Linked DNA regions of Homo sapiens: region 2 is linked to region 1. The links come from fine-mapping of genetic effects on gene expression. A gene starts in region 1. The other region holds a variant in brackets. All regions are shown on one strand. Distances are from middle to middle.

The links.
Region 2: its variant is fine-mapped to the expression of AOC1 in whole blood (INTERVAL, PIP above 0.99).

What each region holds. Positions count from the first base shown.
Region 1 is chr7:150,848,328-150,857,710 of GRCh38, reverse strand. It overlaps AOC1 (amine oxidase copper containing 1), which reads right to left and starts at 5,194. Exons shown (of 5, transcript NM_001091.4): 1 at 5,153-5,194; 2 at 1-1,256. The coding sequence starts at 1,240. All of the region lies in intron 1 of LOC105375567 (a long non-coding RNA gene), which reads left to right. RefSeq lists enhancers at 33-876, 5,041-5,612.
Region 2 is chr7:150,763,947-150,773,329 of GRCh38, reverse strand. LOC105375566 (a long non-coding RNA gene) reads left to right here. Exons shown (of 4, transcript XR_928163.2): 3 at 7,354-8,478. Among named protein-coding and RNA genes, the nearest start is that of GIMAP5, 31 kb to the right of the region's middle. The variant C/G (reference allele first, on the strand shown) is at 5,135.

The DNA of each region.
Region 1 (9,383 bases):
GGGGATAATGGACCGGGTCATCGGCATCATAGTAGTGGAAAGTGTCCAGGAAGGTGGCGGTCTCCGGGCAGTCGATGCCGGGGGCTAACTCATGAGTGACGCTGCCCAGGCCCCAGCCGACATCGAGGTACTTGGTCTGCATGCCTGCAGGTGTGTGTCCTCCATACAGCGCCACTGCCTCTTGCACGCTGACCTCATAGGCAATGCGCTCTCCGCCGAAGTGCACGTTCAGGACCTGCAGCCCGGAGGAGGAGCGCAGCCGGAAGGCAAAGCTCCAGCCGCCGTAGAGCACAGCGTTGCCCTCCAGCCTGAAGCGAGGGCCGTGGGGCTGGACCAAGCGGGGGCCGCTCACATGGATGGGGCTGGGGAAGTCCCCGCGGGGCTTGTGGGAGGAGAAGAGGGGCGGCTCCTCTGTGCTGTCATGCCCCTTGCCCCCAGGCAGCGGGTCCTCCAGGACCACCACGTCCACCTCTCCATCTGCATACTTCCGAGCCAGTTCCTCTGGGCTCCCATAGAACTTCCCGTTGTACCACACCTGCTCCACGGCCCAGTGCCCAGCATCTGTGCTCCCATGATCCACGAGGAGCTCCAGCCCAGTGGGGTGCAGAAAGTAGCCTTCTACATAGCGCTGTATGATAAGCCAACTGCGGCGCTGGCCAGAAGCCACACCCCGGGGGGCCACATCGGTGAAGGCCAGGCATCTGTCATGGCAGTCTTGGAATGAGAAGCCTGTGGTATTGAGGAAGAACTGATGCAGGGGCTTGGTGGCTTCCTGCAGGGTGTGGTAGAGGAGGGCATACTCTGCTGTGGAGATGGGCCTCGATGCCCAGGAGGACTGGTACCCAGGCCTGGGGGACAGTGCTCGCATGTAGCAGGGCCCTGGCAGGGGCCCCACAGCAAACTCGGTGACATTGGGATGCTCCTGGTCACCAAAGAAGATGACGGCACGGGCTTCCCGCACAGGATGCCTTTCACCTTTATCCAGAAACCTCAGCACATGGTACTTCTTGGGCAGCAGCATCTCGATGAGAAACACGGTGTTCTTGGCCATGGTGGTGGTACTGGAGGGCTGCAGCCTCAGCTCCTTCTTGGACCAGAGGAAGCTGTGCACTGCCTTCAGCTCTTGGTTGCTTAGGTCTGAAAACACCCCTGCCTTCCTGGGCAGAGTCCCCGGGGAGGGCTCCGCCATGGCCGTCTGCAGCATCAGGATGGCAGCCACGGCCCAGCCCAGGGCCGGCATCTCTCGCTCCACGGCTCTGGAATGCAATAGAGGAGATGAACTTAGTTGTCTTATGGGCAGAGATGGGCTTCCCTCAGGTTAGGGCCATGGAATTTTCCCATGGACTGAGCTTCCTCCCCTTGCCCTGCCCCAAGCTGGAGGCTGTCCTGGGGCAGCTGGGGCCCCATGCATAGTCCCCAGCGCCGTCGGGCCGCTGCCTGTGCATCCATCCATTTATTTCTGCCCTCTCCTCACTCCTCTGTAAATGTCCTTCAGTCCTGCAGCCTTCCTTACTCAGGGGAACACCCTTGTTTTTGTGTATTATCTCAGCCAGGGGTGCCGTGAGTCACAGAGGCCAGGCTGGGCCCCTGCACATGCCCCCAGGTGCTTCTTGTGTCCTGGAGAAGAAGACACCTGTATTAACAGCAAAACTACATTTCTGACACAACGAAATACCTTTTAGGTAGACAGATTTTGAAATTTAGTGTAGAAATTCAAAGGTAGGCTCTAGAGTCAGGCTGTCTGAGTCAAGTCCCAGTGACTCATGCCACTAGGACTTGCTGTGTGGCCTTGGGCACGCTGCTTAAACTCTCTGGGCCTTCATGTTCTTAGTTTTAAAATGAAAATAATGACAACAGTGCTTAGCTCCTAGGGTTGTGGAGAGAAATCAATTAAACAGTAAATATAAAGTGTTTGTAACAATGTCTGCCATATGGGAAATACATGAGAAATGTTAGCTGCTCTTCTTGTTAAATACAGGCTATCGACACCAGCCCATTTAAAGTTTTACGCAATGTAGAGTGATTCAGGTGTGACTAGGCTGCAGACTGATGGCTTTGGGGGTGAGGTAGAGGTGCCCAGTCCTGCCTAGCCTTCTTTGTGCCCCATTCACCTCTCTTGTCCACCCAAGGCTACTAGGAGGGGACCTCAGGGAGGGTTTCATCTTAGGAAGATGCCTTTTCCTTTCTCAGGGAGGGTGGGTCAGGGTCTTCACCTCATAACCCCATTCCCCAAGCAGCTGTAAAATCCTGTGCTTGTAGCTGTGAGCCTCCTGCAGGGCTGGGAGACGTGGTGGCCACAGCTCTGTCTTCCCATGTGCTGTGTGCGGAGTCTCTGGGAGACTGTTACTCTTGCCTGTTGCGCTGTTGCTACAGATGCTGGCTGGAGCTGTCTCCCAGCCTTAGTTTCTCCAGACCCTAACTTGTCCTCCTAGGTGATGTGGGCCTCCCTGGAAGGCTGCCGTCACCGTGAAATTTCCCTACAGAAGCACTGCCTTTGCCACCTTGCACCCCCTTCCTCAAGGCTCTGGGTTGAGCTGGGAGCCCCGCTTCAGGATTCCTCCCTGTCTCAGCTGTGCTTTTCACTTCCTGCAAGCAGTGCCTGAGGCACAGACACTTGATTTATAAGGTGGATGCATGAGTGGGTTGGACTCTGAGAGATCCTTGTTTTCATATTTTCATAGGTAGTTGCCTTTTGCTCCCTAAATCAGAAGCCCTGGGGGTAAACCTGGAGAAAACTCGTTCTCCTGTGCAGACAGACAGGTAGCAGAGAGGGTTAATCCACTCCTGTCTCAGACCTCTGCCTGGCCCAGCCTCTTCCCAGGGGGCCCAGGCTGCCTGCAAGGGAGGCCCCGAGGATTTCACCTGGAAAGTCGGCGGCACAGGGTGTGAGGTGTAACTGAGGTGCAGCAGCTCCACTTTGGGTGTATCGTGGAGTGACCCACTGAGGAAACCTGACCATCATGAGCGCTTTTCATTTCTTGCTTTTGTTTTTGGAAAATGCATTTACACATCACATTTCCGAAGCACAAGCGTTGGGAACACAACCCATGTGTTAACTAGAGGCCCTGTTTTCCCGTGGCTTTTTTCCTCCAGAGAAGCTCAGCTGCACATTGTCCCTTCCCACCCGACTCTGGGCCAGTGTCACATCCTTTGCCACCTTTTGAGGTCAGCTGAAACCCCGCACTGCCGAGGAATGCTGTTTTTGGCCCCAACTAACATACTTCTCCACTAGTCCCCTTAGCACTTTGTATTTAATTTGTACACGATGGGCAGTTCTTGATTCATAGACAAATGAAAGGTGTTGGCTGGGCCTGTTCCATCACCCGAGGGCTCTCTAGCCCTGGAGGCCACGGTAAAGGCTGATCTGAGATGTCCTTCTCTCCCTTTCCCATGCCCCTCTCCCCGAGGGCTCTCCCCTTGCCCTCGTTTTGCTCCATGGTCATGGCCTCTCATGGGGATGTCCCTCTAGTTGCCTTGTCTTGCCCTCTGGTGCTGGCAGAAGACCCTGGAACCCACATGATCTTGGGCTCTCGGAGGCCCTGCTTACCTGGAGGGAGCAGGTGAGGCAGGGGCTGCAGGCGGAACCCAGAGCCAGCAGGAAGGATATGAGGTGAGTTCTTGTGTTCTCCTATTAAATATTGGCCAGGCCTCTTTTTTTTCTTCTTTAAATAGACTATTTTTTCTTTTTCCTGAGACAGTCTTGCTCTGTAGCCCAGGCTGGAGTGCAGTGATGCGATCTTGGCTCACTGCTACCTCTGCCTCCCAGGTTCAAGCAATTCTCCTGCCTCAGCCTCTGGAATAGTTGGGATTACAGGTGTGCACCACCATGCCCGGCTAATTTTTTGTTTTTAGTAGAGATGGTGTTTCACCGTGTTGGTCAGGCTGGTCTTGAATTCCTGACCTCAAGTGGTCCACCTGCCTCAGCCTCCCAAAGTGCTGGGATTACAGGCATGAGCCACCAGGCCTGGCCCCAAATAGACTTCTTATTAGACTTAAATAAATAAATAAATAAATATATATATATATATATATATATATATATATATATAGTCAGGATCTCACTATGTTGCCCAGGCTGGTCTTGAACTCCTGGGCTCAAGTGATCCTCCTGCGTTGGCCTCCCAAAGTGCTGGGATTATAGTAGACTTTTTTTTTAATAGACTTTTAAAAATAGACTTTAATAGATTTCTTAATAGACTTTATAAAGTCTGTTAAAAGTCTTTAAAAAGTCTATTAAAAGTCTTTTAACAAACTTTATAAAGTCTATTAAAGTCTTTTAAATAGGAGTCTTTTAAAGAGGAATTTTAGGTTCATAGCAAAATTGAGCGAAAGGTACTGAGAGTTTCTGTATACTCACAGCCCCTACACACGCAGCCTCCCCACTATCAATATCCACACCAGAGCCATACATTTGTGGCTGATGAACCTGCACATCACTCTCACCCAGAGCCCACAGTTTACATCAGGACTCACTCTTGCTGCTGCATATTCTATGGGTTGGACAAACGGACAATGACATGGATCCACCATTAGAATATCACACAGAATAGTTCCACCTCCCCCAAAATCTTCTGTGCTCCACCTCTTCCTCCGAAACCCTAGCAATCACTGCTCTTTTTATTGTCTCCATAGTTTTGCCTTTTCCAGAACGTCCTGTATTTGGAATCTTACAGTCTGCAGCCTTTTCAGATTGGCTTCTTTTGCTTGGCAGTGTGCATTTAGGGTACCTCCATGTCCTTTCACGGCTGGGTCTCCTTTTTTACAACCTCTTATACCCACGTTTCTTTTTGCTTTTCCAGGAAGGAGAAAGATGTGGAAGAGACCTTTGCTTTCCCCAGGACAAACCTCTGTCCCCATGTGCAGTGGCAGTGGGGGTGGTGGCTGGTGAGACCTCCAGGCAGGAACAGGAAGCAAGCCCTCTCCCTGCTCACCCTCCTCTCTGAGCTTTCCCCACTCCACCCTGGCCGGCTGTTGCCTGCCACCAAGCACCCGGGCACCTTCTGTGATGTGCTGGGCTCCCGCCCTCACTTCCTGGCCCTCCTCCCTCTGTGTCCTGTTTCTTCTGCCCCTCACTCTGTGCCCTCCTTCCACTGCTTTTCTGTCCTCCAGGTCAGCCCCTTCTTGACTCTCCCGAATACCCATCAGAACGCACCTGTGTGCTCTGCTCCCAGTTCGCTCTGCTTCCAGCCTTTGCCCTTAAGCTGATCTCTGACTCCTTCTTGAAGTCAATCAGACCCCGCCCTGCAGGGAGGGACAAGGTGAGGCCTGAGCTGGCCTAGGAGGGGCCTATGGCTTGGGAGGTGCCTCTGTGGGCAGCTACAGTGGCGAGAGTGGGTTTGAGGAAGCTGGCTGTGCAGCACACTTGTCCTGAGTCTGTTTCCAGACAAGTGCCGCCTTCCACAAGAATTTGCCTTGGCTTCTCTGTGACGAGCCATGCAATGCCACGATCTGTTAATTTAGGTGGCATATTTTAGAGGCAGAGATAAGGACAAGGGGCCATTTCCTAGCCGGTAGTCTTACCTGAAGCTGACAGATGGACCAGGGCAGGGGCTGATAGAGGCTGGCACCCACAGCAAAACAGAGAATTCAACCGCTCCTAGAACAAGACACCAGAGGCAGAACCGTTTGGGAGGAGCAGCCACTCAAGACGAGTTGCAAACTTTGGCGGCTTTTTAACGATCTTTGAGACCCTGACCAGATTCAGAAAGGAGGAAGGACTTGGCTGGGAGAAAGCTGGCCAGGGTAGCTAAGGCTATGGCACAGAGCGGAGAGGGGAGAGGACACTGGGGCAGGTAGTGCCCATGCAGTGGGCGGACAGTGCTAACGCCCACTTAGTCAGGTTGAGAAGGGCGAACGTGGTGACCGGGGTAACTCCTAGTTGGAAAGGAAAGAATAGAGTCAGGAAAAGTTCGTGGCTCAGGAGTGCCAAGGGGTCATCATCCCCCATTACCAAGGTTTGGTTGCTCAGGGATTGCACACCGCTTTGTGGTTATAGGGGTTTTGTATTTCTCATCATCATCCTTCCTGCTGCCCGCAATGCAAGCCATTTCAGTGTGCACTGGCAGCTAGATGAAGGAAGGTGAACACACTTAGTCAACTTGAAGCTTGCTTGCAATTCCAGAAGGTCTTTGGTGTTTCTGAGGAAGGGGATTTGCCTTCCATGTTAAAATGATGATTGATACAAAGACAATGAATGCTAACGTCTTTCACCCTCAGTGTTCAAGAGGACTGTGAGTTATGTATTCTCAGTTATGGGCTCACCAACTCCGCAGAGAATTGGGGGGATTTGGATTAGAAGAGAGTTTCAGGAACAACCTGATTTTGAGGACTACAATCTGTTTCCATTCCACAAAGGAAACTGCGACAAAGTTAATGGAGTGAGGATGGATCGAGAAAAGAGACTTGCAAAGATTTAAAGGGAAAGGGGCCACATGCACATGATGGAGTTAGACCCTTTCACACACGGAAACGGACTCGAAAGGGACCAAAGACATACATGTAAGAGCTAAAACTGTAAAACTCTTAAAAAGAAAACATAGGAGTAAATCTGCTTGACTTTACATCTAATTCTTGGATGTGACCTCAAAGCACAAATAACCAAAGAAAAAAAAATAGATAAATTGACATCATCAGTATTAAAAGACTTTTATGCTTCAAAGGACACCCACAGGAAAATGAAAAGACAAAGCATAGAATGGGAGAAAATATTCACAGATTATATATCTGATAAGAAAATTATATCTAGAATGTAAGAAGAACTCTTCCAATTCCATAATAAGAGGCAAATAATCCAATTAAAAATGAGCCAAAGATCTGAATAGATATTCCCCTCACGAAGATACACAAATGGCCAATATGCACATGGAAAGCTGTTCAATGTCATTAGTCATCAGGGGATGCAAATCAAAACCACCAGGAGATACCACTTTATATCCACTAGGATGGCTAGAATTCAAAAGCAAGGTAATAACAGGTGGGGCCAGGAGGCAGAGAAACTGGAAGCCTCACAGGCAGTTCATGGTGAGATGACGCAGCCACTTCGGAAAACTGTCTGGCTGTTCCTCAAATGACTTAACGTTGTTATCATATAACCCAGCAATCCCACTCCTGGGTATATGCTCAAGAGAAAGGAAAGCCTATGTCCATGGGGAAACCTGTACCAGAGTGTTTACTGCAGTGTTATTCACAATAGCCAAACAGTGGAGACGACTCATATGTCTCTGCATTGATAAATGAGTCAACAAAATGTGGTCTATCCACTCAATGGAACATCATTCAGTCATAAAAAGGAAGGAATCACTGTTACATGACACAATGTGGATGAACCTTAAAACCACTACGGCAAATGAAAGAAGCCAGTCACAAAAGACCACATTATTCCATTTATATGAAACGTGTGGGGTAGGTAAATCTCTCAAGCAGATGAGAAGCACATTAGTGGTTGCTTAGGGCTGGGGTGCGATGGAGGGATGGGGTGAGAGCTAATGCTTATGGGGTTTCTTTTTGAGGTGATTAAAAAGTTCTAAAATTGAAGGTGATGGCTGCATGTACCTGTGAATGTACTAAAATGCATTGAATTATACACTTTAAATGGGTGAATTGTAAGGTGTGTCTCAATAAAGCTGTTTTCAAAAAGTGACAGGACTAATATCTAGAATACACAAGGAGCTCTTGCAAATCGGTCAGAAAGAGGCAGCAGTCCCCATGGAAACCTGGTAAAGAATCCCAAGGGTAACTTGCAGAAGAGGCACCCCAAAGGGCTAAAGAGCACATGGAAAGATGCTCAAATGTAGTGGTTACTAGAAAAATGCAAAGCATTCAACAACGAGATATAATTTTTCATGGGAAAGCTGGATGATGCCAAGTGTTGACAGAGATGTGGGGAAACGGGGACCTTATGTGTGGTTGTGGGAAGGGGTTATTGATGGCACAGCCATTCTGGAGGGCACTTTGCAGGGTGTGGGCAAATGAGAGAATTGCATGCTCTCCAGACTCAGGAACTCTGTCTCTTGGAATATATGTCAAAGAGGTTCTCACCCAGGCCTAGAGGTGGGATGCAGACACAAGTGGCTGTGAGGCTGGGGAGCTGGAGGCCATCGGGGTGCCACCCCCAGGAGAGTGGTCACTGCACACCATGGGGTGTTGTGCAGTTGGCGGGTGCAAAGGCATGGATGTCCACACAGCCACTCCTGAGAAGGGATCTCAGGATCATGGAAGACGCAGGATGAGTGATAGCACGATGCCATTACACAACAGGAAACACGTACACACCAAGCCACCCGCTTTCAAGAGTGGATACACATTAGAATGGATGTGAGGGCGGGGGTGGGAGTGGGAATACATACATACACACGTGAGAAAGACAAGAGAGAGGACTTGTATGGGCCAGTGATGACGACATCCATGCACTGAGGTAGAATTAATTCAGTTCTGCAATGGACGTCCATAAATAAATAAAAGAAAGGCCTGGGAGACAGACTGAGTGACTACAGGTCCTCACACCAGGGTAGATGTGGCTGAGGACAGGAACCACCACAGGTCCCGCACCTGGAGGATGCAGTGAGGGCAGGGAGGAACACTGCGTGTAGGCAGGGAGCTGAAGCACACCAGAAAGAATTGCATTTTTTATGTAACGGGGCCCATAACATGTACATAGAAGGATTAATATTACAAGGTGGCACAGAGTAAGTGCAACACATTGATGCCCAAGGGCCTGTCCTGCAAGGGCTTGGAAGGAGATTCCCCTCAAGACTGCAAGCCCCCAAGTCCTGGGACTCTATCCCCTCTGCAGTAGCCTCCATGGCTGCTGTCACAGAGGACCACACACAGGGGCTTAAAGTAACAGAAATGGGTTGTCTCACAGTTCTGGAGGCCTAAAGTGTGAAATCAAGGTGTAGGCAGGGCCATGCTCCCTTTGGAGGCTCAAGAAGAGGGTCCTTCCTCTCCTCTTCCAGCTTCTGTGTTGCCAGCAATCCTTGGTGTCCCTCAGTGCCTTGGCTTGTGGCCATGTCACTCCAATCTCTGTCCTCACATGGCGTCCTCCTTGTCTCAGTACCTCTATTTTCAAGAACACCAGTGATTGTATTGAGGGCCTACCCTACTCCAGTATGACATCATCCTAACTAATTCATCTGCAACGACCCTATTTCCAAATAAGACCATATTCTGAGGTTCCAGGGAGGACATGAATTTTTAGGGGGATGCTATGCAACCCAGCACACCTTCTTTACCTGCCTCATTGCAGAGAGCATGGTCCTTGGCCAGTGAGTGAATTCCAAGCCCTGTGCCCTGGGGGGCTGCTGCCCCGAGGATCCACAAGGTAGAGCCTGTGTGGGGTTTTGCGATACACGAGGGACTTAGGAGGAAGAGGACACACTGGGCAG
Region 2 (9,383 bases), 84 kb after region 1:
TTACGAATGGGCTTGCATTCTTGATTTGACTCTCAGCTTGGACGTTGTTTGTGTATAGAAATGCTACTAATTTTTGTACATTGAGTTTTTATCCTGAAACTTTCTTAAAGTTGTTTGTCTTGAATCTGTAAGAGCTTTTGGGCAGAGACTATGAGGTTTTCTACATATAAAATCATATTGTCTGAAAACAGAGATAGTTTGACTTCCTCTCTTCCTATTTGAATGCTTTTTATTTCTTTCTCTTGCCTGATTGCTCTGGCTAGTACTTCCAGTACCATATTGAATAGGAGTGGTGAGAGTGGTCATCCTTGTCTTATTCCAGTTTTCAGTGGGAGAGAGAGGGAGAATTCAGAGGGAGAGAGAGACAGAGTGGGAGAGAGAGAATCATATTTAAAGTGTACGATTTAATAAGTTTTGACACATATCCATTGGCCCCCCCCAAAATATCCTCATGACCCTTGTCAGTCCTTCCTCCTGACACTTCTCACCCCCATCCCCGGGCAGCCACTGACTTGCTTTTTGTCACTATAGAATAGTGAGCATTTTCTAGAGTAAGTGGAATCACACCATATATACTATATGTACTCCTTTTGTTTGACTTTTTCCACTGAGCATAATAATTTTGAGGTTCACCCATGTTGTGTGAATCAGTAGCTCATATCTTTTTATTGAGAAGTCATATTCCATTGTATAGATATGCTACAGTTAGTTTATCCATTCACCTGTTGATAGATATTTTGTTTATTCCCAACTTTTGCCTATTGCAGATAAAGCTTTATGAATGATCAGGTATAAGACATTTATGAACACATGATTTCTTTTCTCTTAGGAATATACCTAGGAGTGGAATGCCTGAGTCATATTATGGGTGTGTAAGATTACTTTTTAAGAAACTGGCCAATTGTTTTCTAAAGTCATTGCACCACTTTTTTTTTTTTTTTGAGATGCAGTTTTGCTCTTGTTGCCCAGGCTGGAGTGTACTGGTGTGATCTCAGCTCACTGCAACCTCCGCCTCCTGGGTTCAAGCAATTCTCCTGCCTCAGTCTCCTGAGAAACTGGGATTATAGGCGCCTGCCACCACACCTGGCTAATTTTTTTTTTTTGTATTTTTAGTGGAGACAGCATTTCGCCATGTTGGCCAGGCTGGTCTTGAACTCCTGGCCTCAGGTGATCTGCCTGTCTTGGCCTCCCAAAGTGCTGGGATTACAGGCGTGAGCCACTGAGCCCGGCCAATTGCACCATTTTATATACCACCAGTCCCTCCACATCTTCACCAACACTCAGTGTGTTCAGTGTATTTAATTTTAGCCATTCTAATAATCCTTTTTAGTGCTGCATAATATTTCCATGATATGAGTATACCAATATGAGTATCCCTACTGATGCACTTTTACCTCTCTTCCTATGTTTTTGCCTCTAGAAACAATTCTGCAAAACCAGACTATACTAACTGGAGCTTTTATTGCCATGAGACGGAGTCTTTGGAATAGGGTTGATGCATTAAAGTGTATAAATATTTTAAAATAAAATAAATCCTATTGAGAGCTTTCTTAAAAGGCTGTAATAATTTACATTTACCAGCAATGCATTAAAGCATCTTTTGCGTTTCTTCCCAACCTCACCACTATTTTTTTTTTTTTTTTTTTTTTTGAGATGGAGTTTTGCTCTTGTTGCCCAGGCTGGAGTGCAATGGCGCGATCTTGGCTCACTGCAACCTCCGCCTCCCGGATTCAAGCGATTCTCCTGCCTCAGCCTCCGGAGTAGCTGGGATTACAGGCATGTGCCACCACACCCGGCCTTTTGTATTTTTAGTCGAGATGGGGTTTCTCCATGTTGGTCAGGCTGATCTCGACCTCCAGACCTCAGCTCACCCCTAATTTTTGTCAATAGTATATAACTTTTTACAATGCTTTCAAGTTGTTTTGATTTTCATTTCCTTCATTATGAAGTGAATTTTTTTCACATGTGTATTGGCCATTGATTGTTCATCTGTGAACAGTCTAAGGATGTTGCACATTTTTATTTTTGTGAGTTTTTTTGGTAACATAGATTTTAAAATTTCATCTTAATTTTTTTTTTTTTCATTAGAGATGAGGTCTCACTCTGTTACCCAAGCTGGATTTCAGTGGTGCAATCAGATCTCACTGCAGCCTACAACTCCTGGGCTCAAGAGAAAAATTTATTTTTTTATCTTTAAATTTGTTTATGGCATCTTTGCCATATTAAACACTTTAAAGCCATCTTTTCTTTTATAACTTCTGGCTTCATGTCTTGGTTAAGAAAGTACATTCAACTCTTGGCTTGTACATATAATCTCCTGTATTTTGTCTTAAGATTTTCATGTTATTTTTTTACAGACACAAATTCAATCCTTCTTGGATTTTATTTTATTTTTTATTTTTTTAGATGGAGTCTTGCTCTGTTGCCAGGCTGGAGTGCAGTGGTGCGATCTCGGCTCACTACAACCTCCGTCTCCCGGGATAAAGCGATTCTCCTGTCTCAGCCTCCCAAGTAGCTGGGACTACAGGCGGGCACCACCACGGTCAGCTAATTTTTGTGTTTTTAGTATAGATGGGGTTTCACCATGTTGGTCAGGATGGTCTCGATCTCTTGACTTCGTGATCCACCTGTCTCAGCCTCCCAAAGTGTTGGGATTACAGTGTGAGTCACTGTGCCCGGCCTCTTGGATTTTTATGTAGTGTGAGGTAGCAGCCCAGCTTTACTTTCTTCTAATTGGAAAGCTGTTTTTTCCTCACCACTTAACTAAATAACCAATTTTCCTCTGCTTTTTCATACATTTATTCCCATTATTAACTAGGATTCATTATGTACTATGTATATTGTCCTACTGATTTATTTGTGTGTTTTATGCCGATGCCAGACTAACTTATGTTCAGGCATTTTTTTTCCGCACAAGGGAGCCTGAAGAAAGCATATCTAATTCCACACACAAAAACAACAGATTTCAATTGGAATTTAATTATGTATATATCCATTTTGGAAGAATGTATATCTTCATAGTGGTAAGTATTTTCATACCAGAACATGGTCTGTTTTTCTGTTTGTTCAGGTCTTGTTTCATGTTTTTCAATATGGTTGAGCTATATTTATAGTTAAGTATATCATGAATATATATATATAAGAGTATATGTACAGCATAAAGCTCAATAAAGCCATACCCAGTTTAAGGAGTAGAGCATTGCCCTTCGAAGCTTCCCATCCCACCTCCATGAGTTCCTCTCCCTGTCGCTAGGGTATTATTACTATCCTCTCTTTTGTGTTAATCATTCACTTTCTTTCTTTTTCTTTTTTTTGAGATAGGGTGTTGCTCCATTGCCTAGGCTGGAGTGCAGTGGTGCAATCATAGCTCACTGCAGCCTTGACCTCCTGGGCTCAAACGATCCTCCCACTTTGGACTTTTGTGTAGCAAGATCACCTTGTGCACCACCTCACCTGGCCAATTTTTTTTTTTTTTTTGTAGAGATAGGGCCTCACTGTTTTGCCCAGGCTGGTCTCGAACTCCTGTCCTCAGGAATCCTTCTGCTCTGGCCTCCCAAAGAGTTTGGATTACAGGCGTGAGTCACCGCGCCCAGCCTTTCCTTGCTTTTCTTTATAGTTTTGTATCACCTATGTCTGTTGCTCTAAACAATATATATTTTTAGTTTTTTTCCACGACTAACCTTGTCAAAAATGGAATCAGATTCTGTATTCTTCTGGGAAAAGAACGGTTCTTCTTTGATTAAACATTATGTATATGATATTTATTCATGTTGATGTAGGTAATTGTGTTTTGTTCATTTTTCCTGCTGAATATCATTCCACTGTGTGGATATTCTATAATTTGCTTATCCAATGCAGTATTGATGAATATTTGGGTTGTTTGTAGCTTTTTACTATCATGAGTCTTCTTACAAAATATCCTTATGCATTCATGTAAGTTTTTCTTTAAGGCAATGGTCTTCAAACTTTTTTACTTCTGTATTCACTAAAGGGATTTTTAAAAATTTAGGTCTTCTCTTGATTTTAAGCTGAACTTCTAAAATTTTTTCATCATGAATATTTGCAAAGGATGTAATTTCTAGCACATTGTAGATATTAACATTTTTAAATGAAATTACTTCAGTGCAAAAATTGAGAAGCCTTGTTCATATAAACGAATCAATAGAAATATAATCAATTCTGTTATGCTAATGCCACTCAATTCTTTGTACTCCTTCCAAAATAAATGCCAAAACCGCATAGTGGTTTCTCATTAATTTTTAATTTCTATTGATGGATATATCTGTCTTCCTTTTTGTTGAAAACAAAATAGTGGAGACTGCTTGACTTGCAGAAGGATTTAATGGCCAGTCATTAGAATCACTTGATTTCTCAATGTCTGGGAAGTATACCAAAAAAGCTTTATCAAGACATACCAAATGACTATAAATTGTATGTCTTACTCTTTCACTGAAAGGTTGAAAAGTATCCCATTTAACCCATTATATCTAAAATATTTGGAAAAATTGAAATATTATGAACTTTGATAAACCTCTGTCAATCTATTTAAAAAAACTTTTTAAGTGGAAAATTCTAAATACATAGAAGTAGAAAAAATAGCGTACTGAACTCAACGTATCTATCATTAGGCATCAACAGTTATACATGGGCAATCTTGTTTCATCTAAACCCCTATCCTTTCCACTCCTAGTTTTTATTATTGTTTTTATTTTTTGAAATAGGGTCTCACTCTGTTACCCAGGTTACGATGCAGTGGCATGATCACAGCTCACTGCGGCCTTGACCCCCGGGCTCAATGGATCCTCCTACTTCAGCCTCCTGAGTAGCTGGGACTACTGGTGCATGCTACTATCTTCCGCTAATGTTTTAAAAAATATTTTGTAGAGATAGGTCTGTGTTGCCCAGGCTGGTATTAACTCCCAGGCTCAAGCCATCCTCCTGCCTTGGCCTCCCAAAATGTGGAGATTAAAGGTGTGAGCCACCATACTCGGCCCCTTTTGACGTTTCTGACAAACTTCCCAAGATTAATTTCTAAATTAAGCCTTTTTTATTGATCTTGAACTAACTTTGGGACTTTTGAGATGGGCTCCTGGAAAATGTGAAAGAATTTCTCTCTCACCTTGTAAAAGAGGGA[C/G]ATTAAACTAATTGGCTTATTTGATATGTTAAATTATGTGGGAAGCACTGTCAAGTAAAAGTGACGTTTAGCTTTCTTTATATTTATATGGGCACATGTTACTAATAAGAGTGTTTCAGAAATAAAATTCTTTAAAATTTGTCAATACCCTTAGCTATTCATCATATGTCTGATATAATGTTATCAATCAGAATTCTACATCTTATTTTACAATGTTGTATGTCACAGAAATAACCAAATTTCCTCATCAATTAGATTGTAAGAAACTCTCATTAGATATTTAAATGTGACTACTTAAAAATCTTTTATAATTTACATGTTATTTTACTGTGATATTTTCCTAAAAGCTTTTGCAAGCCACTATGGTCAAAATTTGTCTTCAAAGAGATCATGGAAAAGACTCCAACAAGTACAGGTTTTTGATAACTTTAAGATCCCACCATTGGCCTGGGTAAGAATTTCCAGAACTCTAATGAAGAAACTGACTGGTTTGTAAAACTGTTAACCCGATGTTGGGCAAAACAAAAATTAATTGGATGGGACTAAATGAACTGATGAAAAAAAATGATGCTTTAAAAAATTACCTTTTTTCAAAACATTGCTCGTTCTTTAATATTTTGTTTTCCAGATCTGAGGAAATGTTTTCTCTTTTATCCTACGCTATCTGTAGTTGACCACAATCTGGTAGATTATGCATTTGTAAACAGAAATAAAGCATTTGATTTTCTCCCTACCTAATCCCTCCAGAATTTGAAAATGATGAGTGAGTATTCTTACATTCATGACCATAGTTGTTTGTATAGGTCCAATAAGAATCTATCTGTTTGTAACAGGACACAATGGAAAACATTGGTTACATTACCAAAGCTTTGGAATGTAATTTTTAGAATGTCATAGAATCAGATATGACTACACAGTTTTAAGAAACTAAGGATGACTTTGTGGGGCGAATAAGGCCCCTTAAAAAACCCCCAGCCTGGTACCTTGCTCACAGAGTTCCTAGCCTTATAGTTGAGTAAAGAAGGTAACTTTCATGCAGGCCCAGGAGCCTTAAAAATATTTTGGAGACCTCGAGAACAGAGGAACTCACCCAAATCTAGAGGTGTTACAGGCAAAATCTAATGACAAGCTCTTGGCTTGGCTTCCTAGACTTGAGAGGCTTTTAGATTCCTTATTAGCAGTTCCAGCAAAGCAGACTTAAAAAGAGCCTATACGATCAATCACTATTCTTGCTGCATTATATAAATAATCAAGACAAGTTTAATGTGACTAGACTTATTTTGTAAAAAAATTAGTCTTACTGTGATTATGTTTGGTAAAAGTGGGAGTGACTGTGGAGAGAAAAATTATATTAACAAAAACTATAGTGTACCCGTTATTGGATTCTAGTACTGTTCATTGTCTTTGAAGTTTTGTTATCTATATGTAGAATGGATTAGATATTAAACTCTAATTTCCTCCCATATCCGGCAACAAATCTTCAGGCTAATGCTTCATGTTTTTCTCCTACTCTCTTGACTTGACATCACTGAAAACTGAAGCTGCCCTTTTCCTGAAATTTTGCAAGCTGAAACTGGATGACTTGATATAAACTTCAGAGAACTCACTACCACAACTAATATATAAGCAACCTTTGTGCCTGTTGCTGTGTAGGCCACTCAGAAAGTCCACTGGAACACCCAATGACCTCACCAGAGACATTCAAACTGCAAATCAGGAAATTGATCAGAATTACCACTGCTTATCTTCACTCTCTATCTAAAGATGCTTTGAGCCCAACCTATAGTACCCTTTACCAACTGATTGCCCTCTGGACTCAAAAGCTGGGCTTATAACTTGCCCTAAACATTAACCTTTATTTTTCTTTTGTTTCCATAGAAATGCCTCTTATTGGGCTGGGCGCGGTGGCTCACGCCTGTAATCCCAGCACTTTGGGAGGCCGAGGCGGGCGGATCACGAGGTCAGGAGATCGAGACCATCCTCGCTAACACAGTGAAACCCCGTCTCTACTAAAAAACACAAAAAAATTAGCCTGGCGTGGTGGCGGGCGCCTGTAGTCCCAGCTACGCGGGAGGCTGAGGCAGGAGAATGGCGTGAACCCGGGAGGCGGAGCTTGCAGTGAGCCGAGATCGCGCCACTGCACTCCAGCCTGGGCGACAGAGCGAGACTCCATCTCAAAAAAAAAAAAAAAAAAAAAAAAAAAAAAAAAAAAAAAAAAGAAATGCCTCTTATTGTTTACATTATGAAGTCTCAACTTGGATGGAAGCCCAACTGCAACACGGCCTCCTAAAATGAGACGCAACTGTTCAACTGAACTGTTCTCAGGACTAAAAGGCTGTGTCAATAAGATACGGGGAATATTTGTTCTTCTGTGTGTTCCGATCCTTGTTTTTCTTTCCCTTCGTTGATCTCTTGTTTCACAACTTCCAACCCAAATCTGCTCACAGCTACTAACTTGGCTTTTAACATATGAAACTTTCTAAAAGTAAAGTTTCAAATGGGGAATGAAGAGGCTCAGAATACACTACCCCAAAACATGTCACTCAGAACACATCATCCCCAAATATGCCACTTTGGCATCAGAATTATTTTAAACTAAAGGCACATAAAAACAGGAGATGCAAGAAGATCACTCTGACCTTCACTGTTCTTTAAAAGCCAGAGATGAAATTCCCATGTGAAAGGTGTTCTCCCTAAACCAAGAAGAAAGTAACATTCTCATCACAAAGGATAGGAAGTTGAGGCTGATAGGAATCTATACAAGCATCCCTTATGTTCCTAATTACTTATTTACCCAGTTATTTACCCTAGCATAAGCCCCTTTGCCTTGTTACATTTTCACAATTCAGGGCATAAATGTTTGACTCTAGCTGCTGCTTTGTGTCTTCATTTCCTTATGAATGCTCTCCTGCCATTAAAAAACTTGCATTAAATAATTTATATACTTTTCTCCTGTTGATTTGTCTTATGTCTATTTAATTCTCCAGGCCCAGGCAACAAACAAACAAACAAGAAAACAAAACAAAAACAAAAAACCCCCAACAACAACAACAACAAAACCATAAAAGAGGAGGGGCAAATTTTTGCCTCCTCTTCTGCATTTTTCACATGCTTTATCCTGTTTTCACTTCTTTACTTTCTGGCACTATAAGGTGTTCCAGGCTCATCTTATATTTATTTTCCCTATCCTAGCCCTGGAATCAGCCACTTCTACACTTCTTGAAGGAGTCCTGGTTCCTTTCATCAGGGAACGGCATTTCGAAATCAAGATCTGAGTGCTGGCTGTGCTCATTGCTACTGGTGTCACTGCTCATAGTCTCCTCTCTCTCAGTGGGCAGAGCTAGGTAATTCATGTATGTATAACTGACCCATATATGCACACATATTATATTTTTGTATCTACTAAAAATAAATCAACCATGAGTTCATACTGATATTTCTAACTCCAGTCCAGCACCAGGATTTATTCTAGCATTATCTCTGCTTATTTGTAACTTCTTTCTGACAATGAGAAAAGTGGATCCCATAGCTTACACTATATTTAATTATTTTTGAGCCCAAGTATACCATAGGTTTAGGGTTGTTTGTGAAAAACGAATTTACCAATGAGAGTTTGTTGCTTCTGTACTGTTCTTCTTGTCTTTGGCCTGACACTCTCCAGTCAAAACATTGCTTTACAAAGGCACTTAGGTCAGCTCGTTTCTTCCCTCCTAACTTCCGTATGGTTATGTTTTTTTATTTGTAATACGGTTAGATTCATTTTAGCAGTCCGCTTTTCATCTTGGATTTCCCCAAGATCTCAGTTGATTTTTTAAAAATTTGTATACAGCAAAGTTTACCCTTTGTGGTGTATAGGTTTATGGGATTGAGAAAGGCATAGAGTCACGTGTACAACAAGACAGTTTAACTCAGAACAATTGGACTGCCCAAAAGTTTCCTAATGAGGCCCTTTAGTGGGGCATCATTTCATAGGACTCCCCCAACTCCAGGCAACCACGGATTTGTTTTCTATTTTTATAATTTTGCTTTTTCCAGAATGCCATATAAATAGAATCATTCAGTATGTAACATTTTGGATTTTCTCTCATTTAGCAAAAAGAATTTCAGATTCATTCATGTGTTGTGGGTTGATACTTTTTATTGCTGAATGGTATCCCATTGTCTGGATATACACAGACTTACTTACCCTTTCATCTGTGAAAGACAGCTGAACTATTTCTAGCTTTGGTAATGAATAAAGCTGCTATAA